3 linked regions of the Homo sapiens genome follow. The protein of the gene in region 3 interacts with the protein of the main gene of each other region in a pairwise test. Each region holds a gene or a part of one and is shown on either strand. Other genes may lie near its edges.

Region 1 (9,933 bases), on a different chromosome or scaffold from region 3:
AGGCTGATGCAGGAGAATTGGTTGAACCCAGGTGGCAGAGGTTGCAGTGAGCCAAGACTGCACCACTGCACCCCAGCCTGGGCAACAGAGTGAGACTCTGTCTCAAAATAAAAAAGAAAAGAAAAAGAAAAAGAAATATTAATATTTGATCCAAAAAAGTTTTTAACACACGTTAGAAGGAAATATGTCGGCCGGGCGTGGTGGCTCATGCCTGTAATCCCAGCACTTTGGGAGGCCGAGGCGGGCGGATCATGAGGTCAGGAGATCGAGACCATCCTGGCTAACACAGTGAAACCCCGCCACTACTAAAAATACAAAAAATTAGCCGGGCGTGGTGGCGGGCACCTGTAGTCCCAGCTACTTGGGAGGCTGAGGCAGGAGAATGGCGTAAACCTGGGAGGCAGAGCTTGCAGTGAGCCGAGATCGCGCCACTGCACTCCAGCCTGGGCGACAGAGCGAGACTCCGTCTCAAAAAAAGAAAAAAAAAGGAAATATGTCAAAAAATTAACAGCAGTTATTTCCTGGTGTTAAGTTTACAGGTGATTTTTATTTTTTATTCTACTATAAGGTATTACTATTATAGTGAAAACTATTTAAAATATAGTTTTTACAGTAAAAGAAGAAATGTCTTTTTTTTTTTTTTTTTGAGACAGGGTCTCAACTCTGTCACCCAGGCTGGAATGCAGTGGTGTAATCACAGCTCACTGCAGTTCTGTCCTCCAGGACTCAAGCAATCCTCCCATCTCAGCCTCCTGACTAGCTGGGACTACAGGTGCACATCACCATGCCCAGCTAGCTTTTGTATTTTTAGTAGAGACAAGGTTTCGCCATGCTGCCCCAGCTCCTCTTGAACTCCTGAGCTCAAGTGATCTGCCTGCCTCAGCCTCTCTAAGTGCTGGGATTACAGGCATGAGCCACCATGCCCGGCCAGGAATGTCTTAAAATACTTATTGTATGAATAATGAATTCTATCAGTACTAGCTAAGAGACTTGGACTTTATCCTACAAGTATTGAGATTTGACTAGAAAAACTAAGTAATTTTTTCCTTAAAAGCTCTCAGGAAATGAAGGGTCATTTCCTGATTCCTTATTCTATATTAGGTCCCTCTGTTATAGGCTCTTATAAGACCAGGTTTCTTTCCCTTTCTAGCTCTTACATAAACTCATAATTACAGACTTGTATTACTTGATTTGTGTCTGTAATGCACTAGACTGCACATTTAGTAAAAGCAGAAACCGTACCTGTTTTACTAACCACCACATCCCTAAATCCGTAATGTGCACTGTGCTTGACATATGGGGATTCAATAAATATTGTCAATGAACAAATGATAAAAAGAGTTATGGGCTTCTATACAGTTCTCTCAATAAATTATCTATATAGTTCATAACATATTGTACTCACAAGATCTTTCATTTAAAATTAAACTCAAGGTTTGAGACTTCAAAGTCTTAACATTTTCTCTCATGAATTGTAAAATGCACACTACAGTGTAAAAGCCAAAAACCAAATTTTCTACTTTGCAATAGTTCTTATAACGGTGTTAATAATTATTTCCATATGCAAAGCTAAAGGACTTAATATTCCACTTCAGGATATTTTTAACTAGGGGAAAGTGATCATTTTTCCATTCAAAACTGATGTTTCCCTACCCCACCCTCCAAGATTTGAATTACATTTTTCTAACTACCTTCAAGACATCAAATTATTTCAAAATCAACAGGTTCAAATCTTCTCACTTTGACACTTCCTTACATTCATTCTTACAGGCAAAAAACTACAGTTCACATTTGATTTTTCCCACTTTTAACGTATCATCAAGTTTATTACCTAAATCTTCTCTGAAATATGTTACAATCCTCCCTTCTAGGTTCCCTTTGTATTCCAGTCCACAAATCACCATCCTAATTATGAATCAAGTTAAGTCTCCCACCATTATTCTACATCATGTCCTAAAACCACTTTCATCATATCACCTGGCCACTCTAAAACGAAGGGTCTCTCACTATTGTCTTAAGCAGTGGTTCTTTCTAAGTGTGGTCTCCTGACCAGCAGCATCTGAATTACCTGAGACCGTGTTACACAAGCAAAATTTTCAGTCCCACCTCAGACCTACAGAATCAGAAACTCTGAGGATGGGGCCCAGCAATCTAAGACTCTGATGTACATTAAAGTATGAGAATCACTGGTCATAGGAATACTGAATCTGGATTCCTGTATTTAGTTTGGGAAGATGTCCATAACCCAATCCCGTCTTCCTTGTTAACCTTATTTATTTCCCTTCAATAGACAGTCTTCACTCTAGTGAAGATATATTTCTTCATTCAGTCCCTTCAAAGATTCATTCTCACCTATGTCTCTACCCATGTCAGTCCATTCTCATGTTTAACCAACCACTTCCCACTTTCAAGGCCCAGCTCATTTCCTATCTTTTCTATGAAAATATCTCCAACTATTGTAGTCCACAATATCACCCCTATTTAAATAATAATTATTTTAATTATTATTTTTACAGGTAGTACCAACTGGCTTACATTTTAACTATTTGCTGTTTGTTGTTTTTTAAAAATATATGGGTCAAGTTTCTGCTTTTCCCTTTGTATATAGCTCTGGACACCCAGTACCTACTCAATGAAGTCTTGCCAGTGTGGTTATGTCTTACTGACACTTTTATGAAGGGTACCACAGGTCTAACTATTATTCCAACAAGGACCTTTTATATTTTCCTGTGCCACCTAATGACACGACATCCACAAATTTCCTCTCCCAACCAGAAAGATTATAAAATGCTGTAACAGCGTAAACACTGACTTCAACACCCAGGAAACTGAAGGGTTTCTGTGACACTTAACAGAAACCTTCTCGATCTAAGCTATCACTCCTCCACAAACTTGGCTTTCAACTAATTTCAGTAATAGAACAGTTTCACCCAGACAGCTGTTCATCTGAATTTGACAGGCACAGGAAGCCTGGGCACAGTACCCACTTTAATGTAACAACTTAAATCAAAGCATTCCAAAACCATATGCAGACTTTTTAAAAAGGTTATTCTAAAAGACAGGATGGGCGGAGGCTCACGCCTGTAATCTCAGCACTTTGGGCGGCCCAGGCTTGAGCCCAGGAGTTCAAGACTAGCCTGGGCAACACAGCGAGATCTTTAAAAAATTAGTTGGGCGTAATAGCGCGTGCCTGTGGTCCCAGCTCCTCCCGAGGCTAAAGCGGGAGCTTCACTTGAGCCTAGGAGTTCGAGGCCGCAGTAAGCTATGACCTCGCCACTGCACTCCGGCCTGGGCGGACAGACTGAGACTCTGTCTCCAAAAATAAATAAAAATAAAAAATTAAAGACAGCATGGAGATGGTGGGAGTGTGACAGATGGACAACTACCAATACTCTGAAGAAAGACTTCCTCCTGAAAAGGGTATACCAACGTACACGGGATGAGGTGCGGCACAACCTACCAAGTTTACTGCTTACGATAATGAGTTAAACGGTAATGAAAACCGGAACGGTTGTTGCAGCCTCGGAAATTTTTCTTGCGAGTGGGTAACAACCAGAAAACCAAAGTCTAAGGGAAGCGGTCTGACAGGAGAGAAAACAAAACTTTCTGAGAGCCTGAGCCTCAGGGATTGGCTGACGGGGGCGGGCCGGGTGTTGCCAGACGCGAGACGCGGAAGAGGCTTGCGGTTGACCAAAGAAGACTGGGGGAGGAGACCCGGGACCCACGGTATTACCGTTCCCGCACAAGTGGCGTCACTTGTGGTGTGTCTGGGGTCAGGGAAGCGGCTAGGGGACGCCAGGGCCCATGGGAGCTGGTAACCAAAAATGCGATTCACTCACCTTTCCCATTCCGAGGCAGTGGTGAAGTCCGTGATCTCAAATACCTCGGATTCGGGCTGCGGGAAGGGGAAGGAGAGAAAAAGAAATTAAGCCCCAAGGCGAAGACATGAGGAACGAATTTAGATAGTGACAAGGATTAAGTAGGGAGCAAAGAAATCACCTCACTGTCGGCAGCCATCTTGAGGAGCGCCGGGCCTGGCGCTAAGGCTGCCGGGAAGAAGAGCGAAAGAGAACGGGGCGCGTCCCCGCCCCCGGAGCCCCCGCCCCCTGTTCATGAGTCTTGCCCTAGTAAGTAGGAGTGCTGCTTCTTCGCCCAGGTCTGTTAAGTCTTTAGTCCGCCCTCAGCTGGTTAATAAAACTCCGCTCTAGCTGGTTTCATAAAACTTGAAAATTTCCTGTGATGAATACAGAAAGGGAACAGAAGCCAAGGTGATAGGACAAGACCCTAAACTCATGTGGATAAGATTGTATTAAAAAACCTAAAGCATGTTGGGTTTGTTTTCATTCAACCCATATTTGTAGTTAGTACCAATTAGCTTACACTTTAACTATTGGGTTTCTTTTCATTCACCCTCTATTTATTGATTGTAAGGCAATAAACTAGGTGCTGTAATACCACTTCTACCCTCTGCCCCTGACCCTGCAAGAAGTTGCTCAGTTGATTGTCCTGAAATAAAATCATACTAGTTACCTGGTTTCTGGGAAGAGCAACATGGTGTTCAACAAACGCTTCATTTTTTTTTTTTTTTTTTTTTTTTTTTTTTTTTTTTTGAGACGGAGTCTTGCTCTGTCGCCCAGGCTGGAGTGCAGTGGCACGATCTTGGCTCACTGCAAGCTCCGCCTCCCGGGTTCACGCCATTCTCCTGCCTCAGCCTCCCGAGTAGCCGGGACCACAGGCGCTCGCCACCACGCCCGGCTAATTTTTTGTATTTTTAGTAGAGATGAGGTTTCATCGTGTTAGCCAGGATGGTCTCGATCTCCTGACCTCATGATCTGCCCACCTCGGTTCTGTCGCCAGGCTGGAGTGCAGTGGCGCGATTTCGGCTCACTGCAATCTCTGCCTCCTGGGTTCAAGTGATTCTCATGCCTCAGCCTCCCGAGTAGCTGGGATTACAGGCATGCGCCACAACACCCAGCTAATTTTTGTATTTTTGGTAGAGATGGGGTTTCACCATGTTGGCCAGGATGGTCCCGATCTCCTGACCTTGTGATCCGCCCCCCTCGGCCTCCCAAAGTGCTGGGATTACAGGTGTGAGCCACTGTGCCTGGCCTTGTCTTTATTTTAACACCTTCAAGTTATTTATATATATTCTGCATCTGAGCTTTATATTGTTTATATATGTAGCAAATACCTTCTCCCACTCTGCAGCTTGCTTTTTCACTATTTTTTTTTCAGACTGGTGCTCTAAAAAAGCAGACACTACAATTCCAAGCTGGCGAAGTCTCTGAAGTCCAACTGGAAGTGCTAGGGCAAAAATTATGCATCAGGAAATGCGTAGCCCCTTGTACTACTGCCTTGCTCCGTCAATCATTGGCCAGGATCTCCCCAAGAAAACAGTGGCCTTGGCTATCACTGTTTGCTCAGTTTTTGGCTGGAGGAAGCACTCCAAGAATAGCAGGTCCTTGGCTCAACAGTTAGACAAACCTGATAAACCCAACAGCCGTAGGCTGTTCATCTAACCACACGCCTTACAGCTGGGCAGTGAGTCTTTCTTTAAGGGAGGTCTGAGCAGCACATCTTTTGTGTCTGCCACTCTCTTTTAATAGACAGCCTCTTTTAACATGCACCTACAATGTTTTCGACATCCTGTGCTTTCTCTTTCCTCTGGACATGCTGTCGTTTAGAATCTGCAATGTCCTTGTGTCTATAGTTTACCTGGTAAAATTTGTCCTTCAAGTTTCAGCTTGGATATTTGCTCTTCTGTGAAGACTTTCTCTGCCCCCTGTTAGGAGCTTATTTGTATTTGCAACCAGTTTGGTGGTAATCGATTGGATTCTCACTCAAAATTCATATGTTGAAGCCCTAACTCCTAGTACCTCAAAATGTGACTGTATTTATGGACAGGGTGTTTAAAGAGGTGATTAAGTTAAAATTAGGCCGCTAGAGTGGGCCCTAATCCAATCTGACTAGTGTCCTTATGAGAAGAGATTAGGACACCAGGGATGTGCACACACAGAGGAAAGGCCATGTGGGGACACAGAGAGTAGGTGGCCACCTGCAAACCAAGGAGAGAGGCCTCAGGAGAAACCCAACCTGCTGATACCTTGGTCGTGGGCTTCTAGTCTTCAGAGCTGTGAGCAAATAAAAAAATATTTTTTTGAGATGGAGTCTTGCTCTGTCACCCAGGCTGGAATGCAGTGGTGAGATCTTGGCTCACTGCAACGTTCACCTGCCAGATTCAAGCAATTTTCCAGCCTCAGCCTTCTGAGTAGCTGGGATTACAGGCATGTGCCACCACATCCAGCTAATTTTTGTATTTTTAGTAGAGACAGCATTTCACCTTATTGGCCAGACTGGTCTCAAACTCCTGACCTCAGGTGATCAACCCTCCTCGGCCTCCCAGAGTGCTGGGATTACAGGTGTGAACCACGGCGCCCAGCCCTGTGAGCAAATAAATTTTTGTTGTTTAAGCCTTCCAGTCTGTGGCATTTTGTTCAAGCAGCCCTAGGCAAACATACATCCCCCACCCTCAACCCAGGAAGTCAGACACTCCCCTTCCATGCTTCCTTAGAGCTTTTGACACAGCCCTAGGGCAGCCTGATATTGTCCTTGTTTTGTATGCCTATCCCTCCACTATTTCTAAACATTGAGTTTCTTGAAAAAGAGAATGGTTTGAATGACTCTATCTCAAAATGAGAGACAAAAGGAGGATTCCTTTTTTGTTTAAAGACAGGATGTCTTTCTGTTTCCCAGGCTGGAGTGAAGTGGCATGATCATAGCTCACTGCAGCCTCAAACTCTTGGACTCAACCAATCCTCCTGCCTCAGACTCCTGAGTAGCTGAAACTACAGGTGCCCACCACCACGTCCAGCAATTTTTTCTATTTTTTGCAGAGACATGGTCTCACTATGTTGCTCAGGCTGGTCTCAAACAACTAAGCTCAAGCAATCCTCCTACCTTGGCCTCCCAAAGTGCTGGGATTACAGGCGTGAGCCACTGCGCATAGCCAGAAGATTACATTTTTTGGGGGGGGTGGGAACGGAGTCTTGCTCACTCTGTCACCCAGGCTGGAGTGCAGTGGCACAATCCCGACTCACTGTAACCTCCGCCTCCTGGGTTCAAAGCAATTCTGCCTCAGCCTCCCGAGTAGCTGGGATTACAGGCACTAGCCACCACACCCGGCTAATTTTTTTTTTTGAGATGGAGTCTTGCTCAGTCGCCCAGGCTGGAGTGCAGTGGTGCGATCTCGGCTCACTGCAAGCTCCGCCTCCCAGGTTCACGCCATTATCCTGACTCAGCCTCCCGAGTAGCTGGGACTACAGGCGCCTGCCACCACACCCGGTTATTTTTTTTGTATTTTCAGTAGAGACGGGGTTTCACCGTGTTAGCCAAGATGGTCTCGAACTCCTGACCTCGTGATCCACCCACCTCAGCCTCCCAAAGTGCTGGGATTACAGGTGTGAGCCACCACGCCTGGCCTAATTTTTTTATTTTTGGTAGAGATGGGGTTTCACCATGTTGGCCAGGCTGGTCTGGAACTCCTGACCTAAGGTGATCCACCCACCTCAACCTCCCAGAGTGCTAGGATTACAGGTGTGAGCCACCACATCTGGCCAGGATTACTTTTTGAGAAGCCAATTTAAAGATTCATGGATTGCAGACAAGCTGGAACCCTAGGATAACCTGGCAGAAATCCTAAAAGTCAGAAACTACGGTACTTGCACCTTCCTCTGTTAGGCTGAGAGAGTACTCACCTTGATGGGAGTAGAAGCAAAGTAGAGCATAGGAAGCAAAACAGAGTAATAGCCTGTGTGTGCTTAAATTGGTGTCAAGCAGCTTGAAGTTGAATTGGTAATGAGGGAGTTTACGTAGATCTAACAATCTCTGAATGGTTTTTACCCTGAAGTCTTCATCCACTAAAGGAGAGAGAGAGAGAGAGAGAGAGAGAGAGTGTGTGTGTGTGTGTGTGTGTGTACGTGCTTGCGCATGGTAAAGGTAGTATTGCAACATTGTGGCCAGGCCGCTTAGGTTCAATCCCTAGCTCCACCATTCATTAGCTCAAAAGTTCTAAGCCTCAGTGTCATCTTCTGTAACGTGGCAATGATGCTGTTTATTGTTTCAACTCCATAGAGTTGTTATGAGGGTTAAATGACATTAATCATGTCCTTTATGGACTAACGTAGGAACTAGTCAATAAATGTCAGCTGTTGTTATTGCGATAGAATATCGTACCCCATTCAGTTGAGAATATATAATGTTACGCCCTACCTTAGAAGAGAAACCCCTGCATCCTTTGGTAAGTGGCAGAAAAGAATTTAGCAGCACACAAATGCCGGGTGACCTTATGGAGTGCCCTGTGTCCACTTCCTCATGATTATGTTTTCATAGTCCATGATTTGAAGTCTTTTGCAGTTGGGTTTATTACCACTGGACTCAGACAAAAATGCAGTCTGTTTACTGAAGCTTTTGCTTCAGAATATCACAAGCATATCTAGAGAAGAAGTATGTTGTAATGTAAGGATTTCTGTCTGCTAGCGCTTTCTCAAGGCTGAGTCTAAGAATGCAATCAGTTTGGTGGTAATCGATTGGATTCTCACTCTGTGACCTATATGCAGCTTTGAAAGGGGCCCTTCTGGCACCTTGTGGGGATTACAAAGGCATGGATCTCTTAGAGAAAGTCTCAGTGCATCAGGTGATCACAGTAATTGTGCCAACCATGGAAGTACATAGGGGTTTGGTAGTTTTAAAGCACTTAAGCAACAACTTGGAAGAGCATACAAAACTTGTTTTCCTTCCTGGATGAGACTGTCCTGCTTTCAATTCTCTAAGCTAAATGCACAGTGGATGGTTGCCTAGGAGACAACCTGTAAACTAAGCAGTCTATTTGCAGCTAACTAAAGGGTTTGTGCATGCAGGACCAGCTTAATTAAAGACAAAATTTAAAAGGAAAAATTATTTGGGCTGTACAACACTGAAAAAAAAATCTGAATCTATGCTGTTTTTAAATGGATCCCTGGTTGAAGTGTGGGTTACAGCTGTCCCAGAAATCAGTGCCACAATGAATTAGGATGATGTTGGCTACTGTTTGGCTTGGTGTTTCTTCAACTGTGTGCCACGTCCCTCAGCAAAACACAGCACAGGTAAGCCGAATCTCTGCTTTTCATCTCATTTTAGATAAACTGTATGTTGCAACTTTTTTACTCCCCAAAGGATGTCCCAGAGGAGGAATGCCTGGTAAACTGATAGAAGAAACTGTGTCCTAATCTCAAATAATAATATCCTTGGAGTTGTAATAAACTATTTTTTACTTTTCAAATATTGTGACGATTTCCTCCAATACTTATGCAGGCACCTCTAGACCATAGGCTAAATTACTAATGACAAGAAAAGTGTATGAAAAACACTTGCCTTCATTGAATTATACCTAGGGGTAATCTTTTAGTTTAATCACCCAAATATGTGTAAACTTTACATGGTATGAATCTTCTTGTAACCAATCAATATTGTATACATATGTTCTTAACCATGCTTTCTCAACATGAAATGAGATTTCTGTTGCTTTAAATCTTTATTGCATAAGGTTCTAAATCAAATGTACACTATAACAAAAGGTTTTGGTTTTACAAATAGATAAACCATGCATGCAATTAAAAATAAAAAAGACTGGGTTTTAATAGATGCTAAACTAAAAACCTCTGTGGAATGAAACACTATTCCTCAAAAATCATTGACCAAAACAGTTCTAAATGGGGCGGGCATGGTGGCTCATGCCCGTAATCCTAGCACTTTGGGAGGCCAAGGAGGGTGGATGACCTGAGGTCAGGAGTTCGAGACCAGCCTGCCCAACATGGTGAAACCCTGTCTCTACTAAAATACAAAAATTAGCCGGCAAGGTGGCAGGTGCCTGTAATCCCAGCTACTTGGGAGGCTGAG
Region 2 (10,047 bases), on a different chromosome or scaffold from region 3:
TGCCCACCTAACTCCTGTATAACCTCAGGCTCATCCCTACCAGCCCTCGGTTTCCCCATCTGTGTGCAGGGAGAGGAGGGTGCCTCGGGGAGCTACTCACCTTCTGCATGCGAAAGATGAGATTGGGATCATACATTTAGAACAAAGATGCATTCAATGCATTGTAGCAGTGCCCCCTCCCTGGTTCCTCACAGAACAGAGGTCATGGGTCATTCTAATCCACAAACGATCAATGCACAATGTTTGGTCAATAGAGTGAATGCCCAGCACTTCCCCAGAAGCACCTCTTTCCCCAAGGGAGGTCCTAGGAGCAGACGCATGAGGCCTCCCTGGACACGGCAGGCCCCAAGGAGACCTGCGCCAGTCACCTTGTCTCTGTGTCTTCATCCTCCTCCAGGGCCTGGCCCTTGCGCTCTAAGGCAACTCGCAGCAGACCCCTGTGAGTCAATGAGAGAGAAATGGTGTGGCTGCCCCTTGCCACAGAACTGGAGTTCTACCACCAGTCAACAAAGGCAAAAGCAGGTGGCCTCTCAGAACTGTGGACATGGCCTGCAGGGTTCATCCTCTCAAACCACAGAAGTTAGAAGGTTGGAGCTCCAGGATGTTAGCCTGAGAATCCAGCAGCAGAAGGAACTATAGCATCTAAGGCTTCTATTTGCAGTGTTTCATGGGGTCACAGCCCAGCCTGGGACTGCAGGTGTGTTCCGAGTCCAGGGCCAAGCTCAGCCTACAGTGGGGTGAGAGTGCACCTGCGGTCAGAGTCAGCCCAGCGCCTGGTTGGGTCTTGGACTCTAGCTGAGGGCTGCAGCTGGGCCTTTGCTCTCACCTCCCCACCCTCTAACCCTTTTGCTCAGCAGCTGCACACTGACCAAGCCTCTGGTTCATTGTTGAATCAGACACTTGGCATTCCTCCCAAATGCAAGGCAGAACTGATGCCTGGAAAGGGCACACTAGTGTCACAGGGCAGTAGCTGTCCCGTTTGCCACCGAGCCCACCTGTAGGCAGCCCAGAGTTCCTGGGCATGCTGCTTCACCTCCTCCTGGGCCAGCTCCTGCAGGTGCTTGTTGGCCCCGACACCTGCGTAGGTAGCCTGGAAGGTCAGCATCAGTGTCCGGAGCAGCTTTCCCAGGGGGTGCAGTGAGTTGCTCAGAGCCTGGGCCAGTGCATAGGCAACAGAGAGAGACTAAGCACTGGGGTCTGGAGCACAGCATGCCCACACCAGCCTCCCAACACTTCTCCCATCTCATACACGAGAACACTGAGGTCCTCTGAGGACAAGGGATCCACAGGCCTGTCCCCTTCAGTCAGCACCCTGCTATGAAAAATGGGAGCCCTTCCCCACCAGGGACAGTGACAATGTCACCCCCTTGGCCACCCCAGCAGGGCTCTCACCTTCCTGAGGTACAGCTGCAGGGCCTTGGGCTCCCGGTGCTGCAGCAGCTCCTCCAGGATGTCTTCCATACTGCCCACACTGTCCTCAGGGTGGGTCCTGGGCACCACACACAGCATCCCTCACCCACACCTCGGCCCAGCCCCCTCCCCCCAGGAAGCCCTCCCCAGCCCACCCTAACCTGTGCATGCTCACACAGCCGGCCTCACCTCTCGCAGGACAGGTAATCCTGAGACCTACGCAGCTCCCTGGAGCTCTGCACGTCGAAGCCCAGCAGGGCCTCCTGCAGGTCCCTGGGGCAGCCAGCACACACAAAGTCCCGGAAGGGGCTGTAGACTCCCTGCCAGCGGCTTTCCACGGGGAAGGCACCCACGCCCAGCTGCCTGCGATGGGGATGGAGGGTGGGTGATGGGGCAGAGAGAGATGGAGCTGAGGTAGGCAGGACTCTGCCCAGGCCCTTGGAGGGGTGGGGGTATGAGCCTGGCCCAGGATCAAGCCCCAAGAAGGGTGGATGGATTGAACCATGCAGAGGGGGCTGACCTCCACGGCTCCAGGAGGAAGAGCAGCAGAGAAAGGGACAGAGAATCTACCCTGCGACGAGAAGACAGACAGAAGCATATGGAATCCTGGAAAGACGGAGACAGAAAGGTGGGCAGATCTGGAGGCCAAGCCAGAGAGGGGGTCTTGGTCCAAGAGAGACCAGTGTCCAAAGTCTGGGATTCCCCTCCAAGACATCCCCCTCTGCCCTCCCTTACAGCTGGTTCCTTCCTGTGGTTGATCCCGCCCTGGCCAACAGGCTGGGGCCTGGCTGCGCATGTCTAATGGAGCCCTGCACTCCAGTGTCATGCTCGTAGGCTACACGCAGCCCACACTCACACCCAGGCTGGGGCCTGCCCCTAGGGATTGCTGTCCACTCCCAGCTCCTGCTGTCAGGGAGAAGCAGCATGCAGGGACAGCGGGCCAAGTAGTCAACTGTACTCCCTCCCTACATCTGAAATGCTGCCTGGGACCACTTCCCATTAGAACTGCCACCCACACAGATTCCTTCCTCTGTGCAATACTGAGTCTTCCTCAACAGACGCAACAAGAGCAACTGTTTTCCAAGGAGGAACTCTGTTCCTACAGGAAAAGAAGTCTATCCTTCTCTGGAATACTCCTTGATAATGACTGTGATTCCACTTAGCAAGTTTCCTTCTTTACCTTGGCTGCCAGGAAACTCAGAGCCAGGCTCAATGATCAGTTGTAAATGCCGTAGGACATGTCTACATATCCCTTTCTTTTAAGGTTAACATATGCTCTTATTTTCTATTTTTTTTTTCCTGTATGTTTGGTTTGTAAACCGTATTGTATCCTTTCGAGACAAAAAAAAAAAAAAAGCAGGACCTAAGCAAAGCCTACAAATAATATTTCTCTCCAGTTTTGTGGTGTACCGCATTATATCCACACAGCCCCTGATCCCAAGAGTCTCTGACTGGAGTTGTACACCCTGGGCTCTCGGAACTCTCTAGAGGGCTAAGAGGTGGGTGCAAAAAGGCCCCTCTGAGGAGACCTGAGTCTTTGGGATGGAAACACAGACACATCCCCAGATAGGCCCAGAGCCAGAGGGGCCAGGCACTCACCTCTTGCAGGTACTGCTCGGGTCTGGTGGGAGGGCAGCCGTGTCCAGCACACCCTGTGTGTGCAGTCCTCTCCCTGCCCCACTGCCGAACGAGCCCTCCAGGGTGAAGCCATTGGGGAAGGTGACCTTGCCCTGGGAGCCAGGAGAAGGAGCAGGGATGTCTGTCTGCCCAGTTACCCTTCCAGCCAATCATGACAGGCCACAAGCCTGTCCATCAGTGTCAGAGAGGCTAAGGACTAATGAATGGGCTTCCCGCCATCCATTCAAGCTGCTCCATGCTGAGGGGTTCATAATCCTCTATGCCTGCCAGAGCCCCCCACCAACAGCTGTGCCCACGTCTCAGGGGCTCGCTCACCTCTGAGGTAGGAAGAGGAGAGAGATGCAGAAGGGACTCACAGGCAAGAGTGGGGAGACCACCACTGAGGGGCTGGGGTGGGGGTAAGCCCAGGGACAGGCAACGCCTGAGGAGGGCGGTGTCTTGCCACATGAGGCTGTCCCATTCATAGCAACCTGATCTCCACCCCTTTGCTCCAGTCATTATGAAACCAAAACAGCCCCTACATTTCCAAAGGCTCCAGCGGGGACACATTGCCTTTTCCTGGGTTAGCTCAGGGAGGCACACACTGAAGGCCAGTGCCTCCAGGGACAGCTGCTCGAGGCACTGGTACTGGTGGAGGGCGTGTATTCTGAACTAGGAGGGTATGGAGGGACACAGCCAGGAGACCACCGGTACCCTCTGGATAGCAGGCAAGGCCACTGGTCCCCTCTCACCTCACTCCAGAATCAATCGCAACTCTGTGGCAGGGTGGAGTTGCTGTGCCCACTCCTTGGCTCCAAGGGAGGTGGGACAGGCCCTCCCCTACCTGCCCCCAGCCCTGAGTCTAAGTGGGGAGATTACAGACACCAACCAAGGCCTTGGCAGGGTGTGGAGGGGGGCCTCAGTGGTCCTCACCTTCCCCATGAGGGTCAGGTCCCTGGTGAAGGTGCCCTCATACAGGGAGTCGTCTTCAGAGAGGAGGATGCCCGGGCCCTTGGGGAGAGGAAGCCAGGGAGGGTAGAAAGGGTGGGTGAGGAAGGGCCAGGAAACTCAGGGTGGAGAGAGATGGCCAAAGAAGGGAGATGTGCCCTGACACATGGCGAGAGGGGCCCTGAGCCTCATCACGCCCCACAGGACTGTACCTAATTGGGACTCTAGCCTTTGGCCTGCTAAGCACCAGCCCCGAGGACCCCATCCCTGGATTTCCCCAAATGACACCCTCCGCCCTGGCTCCTCACCCCAGCGGCTTCTTCAGGAAGCCCTTGGGAGCTCAAGAAATGTGGGGCTTTCTCTGAAACATCCCTGCTTCCCTGCTTGTCACTGGCCCTGGGAACGGCAGAGCTGACCAGGCTCCCTTGCCCCATGGGCTGCCGGGAAGCTCAGAGCCGAAAGGGTTACAATTAGTGTTCGGCTTATTTCCAAATCTATTTTGTGTACTTATTCTTCCCCTTGTCTTCCTCTTTCCTTGAAGGCCTCCTTCAATCCTTTCGAGAATGAAGTAGAGCATAAACAAACCAACAGACCATAATAACAGGAACAGCCATCAGGCCAGAGCCCCACATTCCCCAGGCACCTGGAAGGGTATGGGTGAGGCAAACATGGGAGTCCCAGGCTCGGCGGCCAGGCTCAGCAGACCAGGGTGTGAGTGTCAGCTCTGCCACTCAGTGAAGGTGACATGGAGCAGGTCCTCTGATCCCTCTGAACCTCTCATTTGTCATTCACTAGGGACACACTAGGGATAATAATGACATCAACCTGCAGGGCTCTTGGGAAGATCCCACAAGATCAGGGTGGGAGCTTAGCCCAGAGCCAGGTGTCAAGTTAGGACTCTGTGAATGTCAGCTAATGCATCATCATGAGCAAGTGCTCCATTCTTGTTAGTTCATTGAGTCTATGGTAAGTATTCTTAACCTGAGTTGCTGATGGGGAAACCAAGGTCAGGCAGAGCAGGGATTGGCCAGGGCCAGGGGAGGTGGGTGGTAGAGCTGGCTTCCTGCCCAGGTTCTGGCTCCCTCCAGCACCCAGGAACACAGCCCCCTTTCCCATCCCTCCCTGAAAGGCCTCAGCTCAGCCTCAGTGCCCCCAGCGGGAGTGGGGTGCAAAGAGAGGGATAGCCCAGGATACACTCCACTCACCACCGTCTTGTCCGCCTGGAAGGTGCCCTGGTAGCAGACACCTGCCTGGGTGACCATGACCCCTGGGCCGTGGCGCTGACCAGCCTGCCACATGCCAATGTAGCGCTCACCTCTGGAAGGAGAGGAATGTGGCCAGAGTTGGATCAGACTCATTCCCATGTACCTCCTGGGCACTCTGCTGGCACGGGGCGGCAGGGAGTGCAGATAAGGGGCAGTGACATCACCTGAATCCACTCAACAGACACAGTGCCAGAGAGGTCAGGACCCCCAAGAGGAATAGAGAATGGAGGAGGGAGGGAGGCAGCCTGGGAAGGGCATCTGGGAGGCTTCTCCGTGGAGGTGGCAGGAAGGACAGGGGGAATAGGAGTGTGTGCAAAGCCATGGAGGTAGGAGCATGTGATGGATACGTGGGGACTTCAGTGGTCCAGAAAGGCTGGAGGGGTGCCCAGGAGACGCAGCTGGGGTGAGGTCAGAGAAGCAGGCGAGGCTGTGATTGCCAGGCCAAGGATCCAGGGCTTTATCACACAGCCCAGAGAGCCAGCAAGGGCTGCAGTTTTTAGACGTGACAGAGCAGGGGGTCAGAAATGCCTCTCCAACACCATGAGGAGGGGTGAGGGGCGGGGGCGACCCTGCAGTCAGCGTGACCAAGATTCGCTCAGCCTGAGCCTCCGCAGCAACCGAGGGACTGGAGGGGAAGTGAGGGGCTTAAGAGAGACACAGTGGGGGACAAACAGGAGCCTGTGTCCTGCAACAATCTGGTCTGTGAGGGCCCGGTCCACCCCTCCGTCCTGGGAGTGGTGGCTGCAGGGCGCTCACCTGTCACCATCCTCCTCAATGCCATAGCCGCTCCTCTGGCCCCTCTCCCAGTGGCCCGTGTACCTGAAGGGCTGGGGGGCCTGCGGACCACTCTCAAGGACCCCAAATCCGTGCCGCAGGCCCTCCTGGAAGTAGCCCTTGTACACCTCGTCGGTGCTGTACCTGGGGAGGGCCATCAACAACGAGCTCTGCCTCATGGAGCTCAGCCCAGAGGATGGGCCCAGCCCATGAACCCCCCAGCCAGGGTCACTTACTCACAGATGCCGTAGCCACACATGCTGCCTTCTCGCCAGTGACACTTGTAACAGTCGAACTTGTCCTCAGAGGCCTGGGGCAGCAGGCGGATGCCGAAGCTGACAGCATGGTTGTGGGGGTGGGGATCAGCCCTGACCTGAGACGCCCATTACACCTACTCCATGCCACCCAGGAGTATCCCTGCCCCCAAGGAGCCTTCCAGACAACAGGGAGACTCTCAGAGGCCCTCAGCCTTCCTATCCTTCAAAGGGCCCCTCTCAGGACCCCTCCCTCCAGCCTGGTCCCGAGCACCTTGGAGCACCTTTTGGCCTGTACCACTCCCTCTGTGACCTCGAGCTGAGACGGGCCCCCTATTCAGGCCCCCGGTTCCCCTTTGGTACAGTGGGCGGGGGCTGGACCGGATTGTCTCTAAGTTCCTGCTTGAGGTTTGGGAATTCAGGATGGGGCCGGGCTGGTGACCACAGCAGGGGAGGAAAGCACCCTTCAGCCCACTGCACGCCTCCCAGCAGTAGCCCCAGCCAGCCTTACCCATGCTCCAGGCCCTGGCAGAAATTCCCCACGTGATTCCGCCCATCCGGCCATTTCAGGGTTCCCCTGGAACACAGTGGAGGTTCACGAGCCTCAGGCCTACCCACCCCTCAGCAACCTCAGCCACCTACTTTCTCAGACGCCCTCCCTTCCTCTTCCCTTGGACTGGGCTCCCTGCACCCACCCAGCCCTCTTGTCTGAGCTCCGAACATTCCTTGCAGAAAGCCCCTTTAGCCCTTTTCTACTCCTGGCCCAACTGTACCAGCAGCCTCATGGGGCACACTCACCACATCCCATAAGGAAAGCCCTGGAGACATCTAGGTTCCCTTTTTTCCCTTGACCAACAGGAAGCTCAGAGCTAAGAATCAAGCTCAAGTTTAATGCTGGTCTGTGGGGTTTCTACCACCCTCCTCCCCACTTCTGTGTTTTTTCTGTCCTTTTGTTCATAAGTCTTCTCGAGCCCTTTCTGAAAGGAGGCAGGGTATCAGAAACTAGCGGAGGTGCTTGAGAGTGTAGCCTTGTGAGTCCCTTCTGCTCTCTGGGTCTGTTTTCCCAGCTGTGGCATGGGGTGGGGCCACATGGTCTATAAAGGCTTGCCTGTCTGTGGGGTCACACAGACCTGTGATTGAGGCCGGCTCACCCTATCACTTGCCCTGAGACCTTGGGCAGGTTATGCCCATCACTAGGCCTCAGTGTTTGTACCTATGAAATGGGTAAAAGCACTCCATACAGAGCGTCTTCATGAGGACCGATGGAGATAGAATGTGTGCAAGCCATTTCAACACTGCCAGACAATGAGGTACAGATGTGAGAATTATTCTCCCACCCTCCTAAGAATGGAATGGCACCTGCAGGCTGTAAGGCCAGCGCGTGGTTGCTGCCCCTTGTCCTCTAGCGTCACCATCAAGACTTTATTTGGCACAGACTGTCTCTGGGCCAGGCCCAGTCCAAGAGGACTTAAGAGGGACTCTGAGAATTGACTGTCCACAGAGAGTAACCGCTCCTGGAACATGTCCTGAGACAATTAGGCTTGTGTGCTGCTCTCTGCCCCGCAGACCCCCAGGGAGTCCCACCTTGCCACCCAGAGCTCCAGCCACTCACTTGCCGTGGGGCCGGCCCCTGCACCACTCGCCCTCGTAGGTGGCCTGGCAGAGCCGGCCCTCTGCCTGGAAGGTATATTCTGCGCAGCGGCAGTCGGGAGGCTGGGAGGGCTCCAGGCCAGCCCCCAGCACGGGGAAGTCCTTCTTCCCATGCAGGGCCTGGTGAACAGCCCAGGTCACCTTCCACTGCCAGACTGCCTGGTGGGAGGGGGAACATGGGGAAGGGGATCACTGCTGCTGGAGGCTTTCCCTCCAGGAAGCCTTCTGGGGTAGCTCCAGGTACCACCCCCTCCACCCTCCACCTCCTACTCCATTTTGTCACCTTGGGGACCCTTCAACTGCTTCTTGCTACTCTCTGGGCCCTCCACCCAACCTGAGATCCTCCTCTGCAGTTTCAGGGCCTGCCCAGAGGGGCCAAACAAGACCTCAGGGCAGGGATCAACACAGGACCCAATTCTGTCTTTAGAAAGAAAAATACCCTGTTCTTTTTGACATTCTAATTCTTGACCCCGATTTACTCTGACCAGGTCCCCAGAAGCCTGCCAGACACTCGCCGGCACTCCTGTGGGGCCCTGCAGGGTTGCATACTTCTGCCCTCTTCCTACCCTGTCCTCTGACCCCGCTCCCGCAGTTCACAGCTCACCCACACTCACCTGGCCCTGGGAGTCCTTGGCACAAAAGGAGAACTCTTCTTCGGGCGTGAGGAGGTGAAACGTGCACCTAGACAGACGGAGGTGATGAGTAGGCCCCAGCTTTGTCCAGGAGGGTGGAGGGGCCCAAGCCAGAGTCCCAGGGTGTGGGCAGGTGTCATGGGGGTAAAGGGAAGAAGGCCTGGGGTGTCAGCCGAGGGGGTTGCTCACCCGTCCTGCCCAGGATCCACCCACACCAGCTTCAGATCAAAGGTGTGGACATTGTGGCCCTGGAAGAGGATGGACACAGGAGTCATCCAGAGCCCAGGCCAGATGCTCACCTACCCTCTGGCCAAGGCTTGCCCCAAGCTCAACCTTGTGTGGCCACCAAGGCTATTCTGCCCAGCATGTCCAGGACTGAGTCCCTCTCCCCTCTGGCTTGCTCCCCACCTCAGGGACAGCTCCTCCATGTCCTTTCTACCCCAGAGCTTGGCCAGGAACTCAGAACCAGCCTCTAGCCCCCTGTGGCTACCAGAGTGGTCTACAAATGAAGCTGGGACCTGGTCAACCCCTGCTGGAAACCTCTCTATGGCTCCTACTGCCTGGGGGTTGAGACACTGCTGAGCCTAACATTTAAGACCTCACAGACCACTACGCCATCAGGGCCACTCCACAATCACACCTTCATGAGCTTGCCCCAACCTCTCCTCACTGTGAACTTTTGCTCATACTGTTCCTTCTACCTGGAATGCCATCCTGCTCTGACAGCCAGAAAAAAAGCCCCTTCCTATGGGAAGATTTTGTGTAGCAACTTCCTACCCGGCCCAGTCAGGCCAATCACTGCTCCATACCAGAATGGGGAGGACGTGGGAGGCCCAGGCCTGAGGGGTGAGGAGGAGCTTGCCAGCCGCAGGCCAGGGACAAGAGATGGCCCACCAGACACAACAGCATGTGCAAAGGTCCAGCGTCAGGAGAGGGCTAGCACAGGGAAGGGACAGTAGCTCATCAGTGTACCTGGAGTGGAGTGTGAAGTTGGGAGTGGAGGGGAATTCAAACTAAATCAGAACCAATCCCAAAATCAGGCTTCAGGGGACACAGGTCTAGGCTGGGCAGCAGCTTCCTGCCAGGCCCCGGCCACCTGTCTGCAAGGGGGTTCCAGGCCAACCTTCTAAGGGGTAGAGAAGACTGTGCTGTGGACCTCACCAGGACAACATGATTTCAGGATGGATGAACCACAGTTGGTGACTGGCCATGTAACAATTCCCAGCCTCAGGCCTGGCTCCCTTCTGACTTCCACAATGCTGAAAGCCCAGGCACTGCTCCTGTAGGGTACTTTTCTCTAGAAGCCTTCTCATCCAGCCCTCCTTAGTCACCCCTCAGTCACCCATGACTTTCTGTCTGGGGTTCCTCTCTCATTTGAGTACAATGGGAACTAAGAGTTGTCTGGTGTCTACTGTAGAACAAACTCACTCACAATGACCCCCACATTCCCGATGGGAAAACGAAGGTGAAGACATGTAACCAAGGACACCAGCTGGG
Region 3 (9,875 bases):
TGGCCTCCGAAAGTGCTGGGATTACAGGTGTGAGCCACCGTGCACAGCCAACTTTGATTCTTAAACTTAATCCATTCATCTTTCAATATTTAAATGTCAGTGCTGCTAGGTGCTTCACACCTTTACTGATCACTGTAGGAGTCAGTTATCCCCACAGGCCCAGGTCAGGTCCCTGTCACATGTTTTCATAGTACTGCATATTTCTCCTTCATAGCACAGAAAAGGGTTGAATAAATCATTTCTGGCTGGTCGCAGTGGCTCATGCCTGTAATCCCAGCATTTTGGGAGGCCAAGGCAGGCAGATTACCTGAGGTCAGGTGTTTGAGAACAGCCTGGCCAACATGGTGAAACCCTGTCTCTACTCAAAATACAAAAATTAGCTTGGCATTGTGGCGGGCAGATTCCCAAATGTGCGCCTATAGTCCCAACTATATGGGAGGCTGAGGCAGGAGAATCGCTTCAACATGGGAGGCAGAGGTTGCAGTGAGCCGAGATCGTGTCATTACAATCCAGCCTGGGTAATAGAGAGAGACTCAGTCTCAAAAAAAAAAAAAGAAAAAGAATAAATCATTTCCTGTACACTAGTCATAATGTAGCTTCTTGTAGGTAAGGTCTACGAGGACAGAAGTCCATTTTGTCTAGATCGGGGTCAGCAAACTTGCTCTGAAAAGTACCAGATAGCAAATATTTTTGGGTTTGTGGCCCATCAAGGCTTAGTTGCAACTATTCAAGTTGGTCATTGTAGCCCCAAAGCAGCAAGACAGTAAGTAAATAATTGGGTGTGACTGTTTCAGTAACTCTTTATTTACAAAAGCAGGAGGCGGGCAAAAAGGCCACAGTTTGCCCACCCCTGGTCTAGGCACCAGCACCCAGTCTAGCACCTGGCATATAGCAGGCACTCTATGAATAAAGAAAACTACCAAGAAAAGGCCATTTGACTTTGGCTATTAGATGGAAACTGGTACCAGGGGAAGGTGGTTTTAGTGGCATGGCAGGGAGGAGCTGAGATGACGGAGGGCTGAAGAGTGAGCAGCAGTTGCGGAAGTGGTAACTTCTCTTTCAGGAGTTCCACCATCTGAGCAGTAGGTTGGGGAATGGGTGCTCTTGTGGTGGAGTGGGGTGGATTCGGAACCTGTGTGCAGGCTATGACAAGATGATAGGGCTGAGGAAGAAACAGGGTAACTCATGAAGAGGTGGGGCTCCAGAGCTCAGGGGCATGTTTGGGGTTGGTCACAAAGGAGGAAGCCACCTTCTAAAACTGAGGAAAAAGAAACAAAAAAAGGCAGAAGAAAGAAAATGAGGAGAAAGCCTTGTATGCTATTTTCCCTGTGAAAATGTGAGCCAAATCTCCTGGTGCAGAGAGTGGACTAGAGGCAGCTCAGGAGCCACAGGCATCTGGCAGATTGGGAGCTACTGGCAAAAAGGGAACAGTGGACACTCAGGATGGGGCGTGCCTCACCAAGATGCATGAAGCTACACCCTTCACTTTTCTCTCTTCTTATTTGAGAGAGCACTTCTAGCCAAGGTGGTGTCTGGGTGTCTTGTGGATTTTAGGTTTTCAGCTCTGACTCAGTGTGAAGTGTATCACTCACTGAATCACCAGCAGTACTTGCTGTCACTTCCCAACACTTCACTTTCCCATGCAGGTAGGGACAGGCAGGCCCTGAGAAGGATGGGGTCATGTTTTACATGTGTCATACCCAGCTCTTTCTTAAAGGACACGGAAAAGCATTTTAATTGCAGAAACTTATTGGTGAATTTCATCCCCATGCCTTCAAATGTGTAGGAGACCCACAGGGTTTAAAAAAGCAGATAGGCGGCCAGGCACGGTGGCTCACGCCTGTAATCTCAGCACTTTGGGAGGCCAAGGCAGGCGGATCACGAGGTCAGGAGAGAGAGACCATCCTGGCTAATACATGAAACCCCGTCTCTACTAAAAATACAAAAAAAAATTAGCCAGGCATGGTGGTGGGTGCCTGTAGTCCCAGCTACTCGGGAGGCTGAGGCAGGAGAATGGCGTGAATCCAGGAGGCGGAGCTTGCAGTGAGCCAAGATCGCGCCACTGCACTCCAGCCTGGGCAACAGAGCGAGACTCCACCTCAAAAAAAAAAAAAAAAAAAAAAAAAAAAAAAAAAGAAAACCAGCCGGAGTAACATGGTGCAACTCTATCTCTACTAAAAAATACAAAATTTAGCCAGGTGTGATAGTGTGCATCTGTGATCTCAGCTACCTGAGGTGGAAGGATGACTTGAGCCCAGGAGATTGAGGCTGCAGTGAGCCATGATTGTGCCACTGCACTCCAGCCTGGGTGAAAAAAAAAAAAAAAAAGCAGACAAAAAATATTGAACACATAGGCGAGGTGTGGCAGCTCATGCCTGTAACCCCAGCACTTTGAGAGGTTGAGGTGGGCAGATCACCTGAGGTTAGGAGTTCGAGACCAGCATGGCAAACACGGTGAGACCTTGTCTCTACTAAAAATACAAAATTAGCTGGGCATGGTGGTGGGCGCCCATAATTCCAGCTACTCAGGAGGCTGAGGCAGGAGAATCGCTTGAACCCGGGAGGCAGAGGTTGCAGTGAGCCAAGATTGCGCCATTGCACCGCAGCCTGGGCAAAAAGAGCGAAACTCTGTCTCAAAAAAATCCATAAATAACCTCTGACAGCAGGAGCTCATAATTTCTCAGGGGACAATCTTATGGCAGTTTCTCTCCTGGGCTGTAAAATATTTCTCTATTAGTCAAAGAATGATCTGCATGGAGCACAAAGGCCAATTTTATCCTAATGATGGATAACATAGATTTTTTCTTTAAATGCTGGAAACCATTTGAGGGTTTGATGATTAAAACTAGAGCACAGCACCTATTTAGTTTTATAAGGTTAACATAATATTAAAGCCTATAAAACACAACTTCTTATGTAGTCAAAGGATTAGTATTGCAAAATGAAAAGTTTTCTTATAGCGTCAAAAACATATGAACAATCAACTTTACTTATCCATAGAACCAGAGAACTGAAAAAACCTTCCATTTCAATATGAATTTATTAATTTATTATTACTACCAGTACAGGAATGTGTAAGGGTTCAGATCTCAACCTACTACTTTCAGGAAGGACAAAAACCATTTAAATGTCTTTTACTTGATATGCCTGAAAGAATAGCACCAGGATCTATTTTCATCTGCCTTATTTCAAGGTGTAATTGCTGTTGATATTTATAGACCGAAGCTTCTGTGTCTGTTCTAATAATTAGTAGAACTCCAATTCATATTTGCATTTTGAAGTTCTCACCCCCAACAAGTCCGAAGATAATTTTCCTAAAATACACAGATCCTCACTGGACTCTTTCAAGTCCTTCCAGAGATGATGCGAACCAGCGACTCAGAATTCAATGACTACAAAGCGCAGGGCCTACACCTGTAACACACTATGTATTTGGAAGGATTTTCAATGCACCTTTAGATGTGTATCAAATAAAAGTCTCTTACCCTATTGTTGGGTTGATGTTTGGATCAAAACTGTCTTCCACAAACCGCCACACAATACTCGATTTACCTACACCTGTATCCTGAAAGAGAACGAGATGAGGGACTGAGAAAAAGTTTACCTTTTGGCAGACACCAAAAACTACTTTGTGGCATAAGTTCAGGATTTTAGAAAAATCACCCTAGACGTGTAAATTTTATAAACGGAGGAACACAAAAGCGGTTGTCATAAAAATTCAGTAGAGTAATTAGGAAATTCCAACTGTACTAAAAGGGAGAGGTTTTTGCCGTTAAGACAGATTAGGACCTTTTGAGAGACCCAAAGTTTCTGCTTCGTGTAAAAAGTAACAAGTCCACTTGCTTTTTAACATATGTTAGTAAACTTTGAACTCCTGAGTTACCTCTGAGTAATCCCTGATGAATCCTAGCCCCACCCTATTTGGGGGAATAAAGATTAGTTATTGGAGTTCCTGCCGATCTTTAAGGCAGAAACTCTGGAATGACAGCATCAATTTCAGAAAGAAGGCTTTGAAATGGCCAACACCTTGTCTTTCCTGACAAGACAGGAAGCTGAAGCTTCAAACTAGTCTTTGGGGCTTCCTGATTTGAACACCCCTTTTCTCCACAGGAAGAGTTACTTGGCAAAGTAACTCTTTGGACAAGTGGCAGGGGTATCCCACAAGTTCAAAAACACCCAAGAGACAAAGTAGGCTAATGCTGCTTGTAAAACCTAAAGACCTGTTATTGGTTTTACTTTGGAAGACTTGGCCAACTCCCAACTAATACCTTGGTAAGTTGGGAGAAAACTATTTAAGAACCTCTCTTAACCCAGATGCAATAGAGAGGCAAGGGGGGGCTGTTTGCTCTTTGTGGGGCGGGAAGAGTCCACGGGCTCCAGGGAGGGGAAGGGGAAGGGTCCCTTCGGCCTCCAGGACCTTTTCGAGAGTGCAAGAGGTGGGCGGGACGGCTCCCGAGCTGGAGGGAGGGTCCACGGGGCTGGCAGACAGCGTCTTGGACGTGGGAGGGGGGAAGGGATGAGGGGACAGGGGGGATCCGGGGTCCCCGCCAGCCCAGCCTCCCGTGGCCCTCCCGGCCGGACCCGCCGCCACTCACCCCGAGCAGACACACTTTGAGCTCCCTCAGCGCCATGGCCCGGGAGCCAGGGGCGCGGGCCCGCCGCCGCCCTAAGTTGAGAAGGGAGAGGCCAGGCCCAGCAAGAGCATCCCCTGGCGCCGCTGCCGCCGCACGGCCCAGCCCCGGTCCGCGCAGAGGCGGCTGCCGCCCGTCCTCCGGCCGTAGGTCCGGCCTGTCCGCTGCCAGCCGCGTGGGGCCCGCCTTAGCAGCCGGGACGCCGCCGCGGCCTTCCGGGAGCCGCCGCCGCCGCCATCTTGGGACGCCGGCCGCGTCACCTGACCTCCCCGCCCACCTCGGCAGCCACCTTCGCTGAGAGGGCGGGGCCGGCCGGCCGGCGCGGATCGGGGGCGGGGCCCGAAGCCGACGGCCCCGCCCCTGTCTGCAGGGCCCCGCCCCTGTCTGCAGGGCCCCGCCCCTGTCTGCAGGGCCCCGCCCCTGTCTGCAGGGCCCCGCCCCTGTCTGCAGGGCCCCGCCCCTGTCTGCAGGGCCCCGCCCCTGTCTGCAGGGCCCCGCCCCTGTCTGCAGGGCCCCGCCCCTGCCGGTCCCGCCTCCATGCCCATCCCAAGATGGCGGGTGAGTGGGGCTGGGCTCGGGGGATGCCAGGGGTGCCCCTCTCTCTCTCGCCCCGTGACCACCCCGCGAGGCCGAGGGGCCCCTGCCCGACCCCGTCCCCTCTCGCCGCAGCCCCCTGGTAACTTCTTGTGTGTTTCTTGGTTTTCAGAGATCCCCCTGTACTTTGTGGACTTGCAGGATGACTTAGACGACTGTAAGTAAGAGTTGGGGCACCCCTGTCCCTCCCTGGGACCCTCTCAAAGAATTCAGAGTGCACGAAGCGCGGGGCGGGGGAACCTCAAGCCAGGCACTCCTTGTCGGGACCAGAACAGCGGGACCCCCAACTGCCTAGATCCACTGGTGGCGGTCCCTCCTCCCTGGGCGGGGCGGGCTGAGGGTGGGAGCCCTTCCCTTCCCTCGGGGGAAGGATTTTTGTTGTTGGGGAAACTTTGGACTCCCTGTCACTTCTTTTCTTCCTGCGCCTGCAGCTGCCGTGGGATGGGCGGAGGGGGTAGTCCCAAGTCCTAGTCGACCCTGGGCGGGCGGGGGGTCCGCCACCTGGGAGGTGGGTGACTTCCCTCTCAGGGCCTTGCCCTTTTCCTAGGGACTTTTTAGGACTGCTGGGGGGTTTGGGAGGTCCCCCTCTCGGTGTGGCCGGTCACGGAGTTGCACGGACTTCTCAAGTGTCCTGGCCACAAGCCCGGCTCCATCTCTTATCCCATGGAGCCCATTGGCCCCCGCATTTCTTGGGTGGGACCCTTGTCCCTTCTTGCCCTCTTTTTTGGAATCATGTTAAGGGCTGGTAGCTGGGGGAGGTGTCATCTTAGAAATCCAAGTTCGCATTTCTGGTGAAGGAAGGAAGCGTTTTCTCTCCTGTCAAGAAACTTACTGAGCAGCTATTTGCTCTGGGGGCCACGTGTTGGGCTCCGAACCTGCAAGGATGTGTTGAAAACAGCTCTACACGCAGGGAGCTCACAGGGTGTGGGGAGAGCCTACTTGTAAACAGAAAATTACCGAGCACCGGAGTGCTTGCTGGTGAAGAAGCCCTATATAAATCATCCAAATAGCTAACATTAATTGGGGGCGTACTGTACGCCAGTCATATACAGTACTTCCTCTCATCTTTCATTCCACATCTTCAGGTTTCCTAATAGTAAGAGTTGGTGTTTACTGAAAACTTACCATGGACCAGACAGCGTTAAACTCTTTTTTTTTTTTTTTTTTTTTTGAGACGTAGTCTTGCTCTGTAGCCCAGGCTGGAGTACAGTGGCACGATCTCGGCTCACTGCAAGCTCCACCTCCTGGGTTCACGCCATTTTCCTGCCTCAGCCTCCCAAGTAGCTGGGACTATAGGCGCCCGCCACCACTCCCGGCTAATTTTTTGTATTTTTAGTAGAGAAGGGGTTTCACTCTGTTAGCCAGGATGGTCTCGATCTCCTGACCTCGTGATCCGCCCACCTCGGCCTCCCAAAGTGTTGGGATTACTGGCGTGAGCCACCACGCCCGGCCCAGTCTTAAACTCTTTACACACATTAACTCAGAAGGCGCAGTTTCGGCTGGGTGCGGTGGCTCAGGCCTGTAATCCCCGCACTTTGGGAGGCAGAGACGGGCAGATCACTTGAGTCCAGCCTGGCCAACATGGTGAAACCCTGTCTCTACTAAAAATACAAAAATTAGCCGGGCTTGGTGGCGCGCGTCTCTAATCTTAGCTGCCCGGGAGGCTGAGGCAGGAGAATTGCTTGAACCTGGGAGGCAGAGGTTGCAGTGAACGCCACTGCACTCCAGCCTGGGCGACAGAGTGACTCCGTCTCAAAAAAACAAAACAAAACAAAACAAACCAACAAGGGGCAGTTTTGTTAAAGTAGCATAACACTTTTGAAGGGGTAAAGCAAGCTGATAGTTAAGAGCCCGGTGTCTGTGGAATCAGATGGCCAAGAGTGAAATCCCGTATCACTGTTTACTGTCAGTGTGATCCCAGGCAAGTCGCTGTACCACTCTATGCCTCAGCGACCTCATCAGTAAAATGGGCATTATAGTGGCCCACCTCAAAAGGCTTTTATAAGGGATTAAATGAATAAAGGATTTAGCACAATGCCTAGTATGTAATAAACAGTTGGTAAATAATGGCTGCTGTTACCGTTATTCATGTGATCATTATTAGTAGTTATTTAACACTGTTGAGCCTGGTACAGTATAGATCCAGGTTTACCCAGCTGAATGTTTCAGCCGATGGGCATGCTCAGATTGAAGGAGTTGTATCATTTCCGTTGATACAACGGATAAACAATGTTTAGTTGCCATGATGGTGCTTGTCATTCATAGATGTGGTATTTGGTCTGACTGGAAAGCTATTTTCTAGCTGCTTCAGTTATCTAACCACCCCAAAACTCAATGGCTTAAACCAACAGCATTTGATTTCCCACAAATCTGTGAGTAGACTGGGTGGTGCTTCTGCTTAATGTGGTTTCAGTTGGGGAAGTCCGAAATGATGTCACTTATGTGGGTGGCATAGGTCCTGGCTGTTGGCCAGGACTTCAGTTCTCCGCGAGGTGCCCTTTCCACTTGGCTAGGTCAGCCTTCTCACAGTATAGTGGCCACAGGGTAGTTGCACCTCTTTTCTGACGGCTCCCCTCCTTCAGTCCTTTTTCACCTATGTATGTACAAAAAAGGAAGTAAGGAATTATATAGGAAAAAATTATGATCTTACTTTGGACAAATATTTGAACAAATGTTAGGTGTTTGAGACTTGTGATTATAAAGACTTAAGTACTCTTCAGCAGACAGCTGAAGACTTGCCCCAATGAGGAAGGAAACCACCGTTATGGCTCTGAACTTAACCACACCTTGGGTAGGACAACCTTGGCAGCCTCTTGGGGGCTTCCTGTTTGGGCAAGGGTAGGAGCTGTGGAGTGCTGTACCTTAGGAGTTTATAACATAATTGATCTGTACGGGAGGGCATGCTCATTCGTGTCGCCCTGCTTCTACCCCTACACCTCCCCATGGTAGTATTGGGAGGTATTATCATACCATTATTGGCAGAAAGAACCCTGAAGTTTTATCCTCTACATCCTGGCTCTCTCACACCTGTAGCTGTGTTACGTTGGGTGGACCACTCATCCATTCTGTTCAATTCTTTGGAAAATGGCATGAGAATGGGAGCTGCTTCATAGGACTGGTGTGAGGGTTAGATGGATAGCCAGAAAACATTCTAGTCTAGTGCTTTGTAAAGTATTCAGTGATTTTATCATCATCATCATCTTTGCTGGATTTTTATGTAAGAGCTTATGATTCAATGTTAACAGCTGCTACTCTGTGAGGTAGGTGGGATTATTCCTCTTAACAGATGAGAAAACTGAGAATCAGGTTGAGTAACTTATCCATTGTGGCACAGCTCATGAATGGTGGAATTCACAGTCAAATGCGGTTCCTTCTGCTCTTTTCTTCTTTTTTTGAGACAGAATCTCACTCTGTCGCCCAGGCTGGAGTGCAGTGGCGTGATCTTGGCTCACTGCAAGCTCCGCCACCTGGGTTCACGCCATACTCCTGCCTCAGCCTCCCGAGTAGCTGGGACTACAGGCGCCCGCCAACACGCCTGACTAATTTTTTGTATTTTTAGTAGAGACGGCGTTTCACCATGTTGGCCAGGATGGTCTCGATCTCCTGACCTCGTGATCTGCCCGCCTCGGCCTCCCAAAGTGCTGGGATTACAGGTGTGAGCCACCGCGCCTGGTCTGCTCTTTTCTTTTTATTCCACCACATGGATCAATCTCATAAATATTCTTAACCTAGGGGATAGGAGATGGATGTCAGTTTGGGTGGTACTGTGACTGTTGTCCTCCTGGGGCATTTGTGTCTAAATGATGCGATGCCTATTTAGACTGTAGGTCCCTTGGGGTAGGGACACAGGCCATCCTTTCTATAATCCAATGTCTCGCATTATCTAGGTGCTCAATTAATGTTGTTAATGTTAACGATAACGAATTATGAGGCTTTTGTCTGATTTACTTTGTGATTCTTGATTATGTTTGGCTAATTTCAAAAGGGAGCCATAATGAATGGATGTCTTATTTTTTAAATCATTCAGAGTCTTCAGGCCATTGCAGCACAGAAGAGATTTCATTTCAGAGAATTGGCTTGCTGAAGCAATCTAAATTTCTTCTCTTGAAAGCGGAAAGTGTGTGGGATGGCCTGACATATTGGTTTCCATGTTGAATTACACATGGAAGGTGGAGCTGTATGTCTATGCCTAAGCAGCTGCAGGCCTATGAATGTCTAGTTTTGCTTATAGCATATGGAGGCTGAAGAGGTGTTATTGTTGATAAGGTTTGCTTGGCCAATTAGAATTTAAATGTGTGTCAGGGATGGGTGAGTAAAAAATGAGGGGCGCCTATTGCAAATGTAAAGAGAGCTGGTGAATAAAAAATGAGGGGAGCCTATTGCAAATGTAAAGAGACCTAAGAGACCTATCAACATAAGACAATATGTGGTCATATTTGGATCTTTAGTTGAACAAATCAACTATAAAAATACATTATTGAGACAGGGAAAATTGAGTTGGACTGGGTATTAGATAATATTAATAATTATTTTGTTGGGTGTGATAATAGTGTCATGGTTTTGTTCAAAGGAAAAGGGCCTCATCTAACAGAAACAAGCATTCGTGGGTGAAATCATTTGATGTGTGAAGTCCGCTGTCAAATACTGCAA

Evidence for each region.
Region 1: the proteins of RAB22A (region 3) and RAB3GAP1 interact in a two-hybrid assay, tested with the Homo sapiens proteins (one study listed by BioGRID).
Region 2: the proteins of RAB22A (region 3) and ALS2CL interact in binary tests that used the Homo sapiens proteins (3 or more experiments, as listed by UniProt).

The regions. Positions count from the first base shown.
Region 1 is NC_000002.12:135,046,392-135,056,324, reverse strand, and holds the start of RAB3GAP1 (rab3 GTPase-activating protein catalytic subunit), read right to left. Parts: upstream 4,034-9,933; 5' UTR 4,018-4,033; coding exon 4,000-4,017; intron 3,896-3,999; coding exon 3,840-3,895; intron 1-3,839. UniProt on the Homo sapiens protein: Catalytic subunit of the Rab3 GTPase-activating (Rab3GAP) complex composed of RAB3GAP1 and RAB3GAP2, which has GTPase-activating protein (GAP) activity towards various Rab3 subfamily members (RAB3A, RAB3B, RAB3C and RAB3D), RAB5A and RAB43, and guanine nucleotide exchange factor (GEF) activity towards RAB18.
Region 2 is NC_000003.12:46,675,250-46,685,296, forward strand, and holds part of ALS2CL (ALS2 C-terminal-like protein), read right to left. Parts: intron 8,799-10,047; coding exon 8,740-8,798; intron 8,600-8,739; coding exon 8,533-8,599; intron 8,078-8,532; coding exon 7,881-8,077; intron 6,846-7,880; coding exon 6,780-6,845; intron 6,350-6,779; coding exon 6,251-6,349; intron 6,159-6,250; coding exon 5,997-6,158; intron 5,293-5,996; coding exon 5,181-5,292; intron 4,039-5,180; coding exon 3,961-4,038; intron 3,141-3,960; coding exon 3,010-3,140; intron 1,774-3,009; coding exon 1,600-1,773; intron 1,490-1,599; coding exon 1,393-1,489; intron 1,154-1,392; coding exon 996-1,153; intron 728-995; exon of another isoform or gene 438-727; coding exon 369-437; exon of another isoform or gene 1-368. UniProt on the Homo sapiens protein: Acts as a guanine nucleotide exchange factor (GEF) for Rab5 GTPase. Regulates the ALS2-mediated endosome dynamics.
Region 3 is NC_000020.11:58,304,733-58,314,607, reverse strand, and holds the start of RAB22A (ras-related protein Rab-22A), read right to left. Parts: upstream 4,894-9,875; 5' UTR 4,632-4,893; coding exon 4,596-4,631; intron 3,566-4,595; coding exon 3,486-3,565; intron 1-3,485. UniProt on the Homo sapiens protein: Plays a role in endocytosis and intracellular protein transport. Mediates trafficking of TF from early endosomes to recycling endosomes. Required for NGF-mediated endocytosis of NTRK1, and subsequent neurite outgrowth.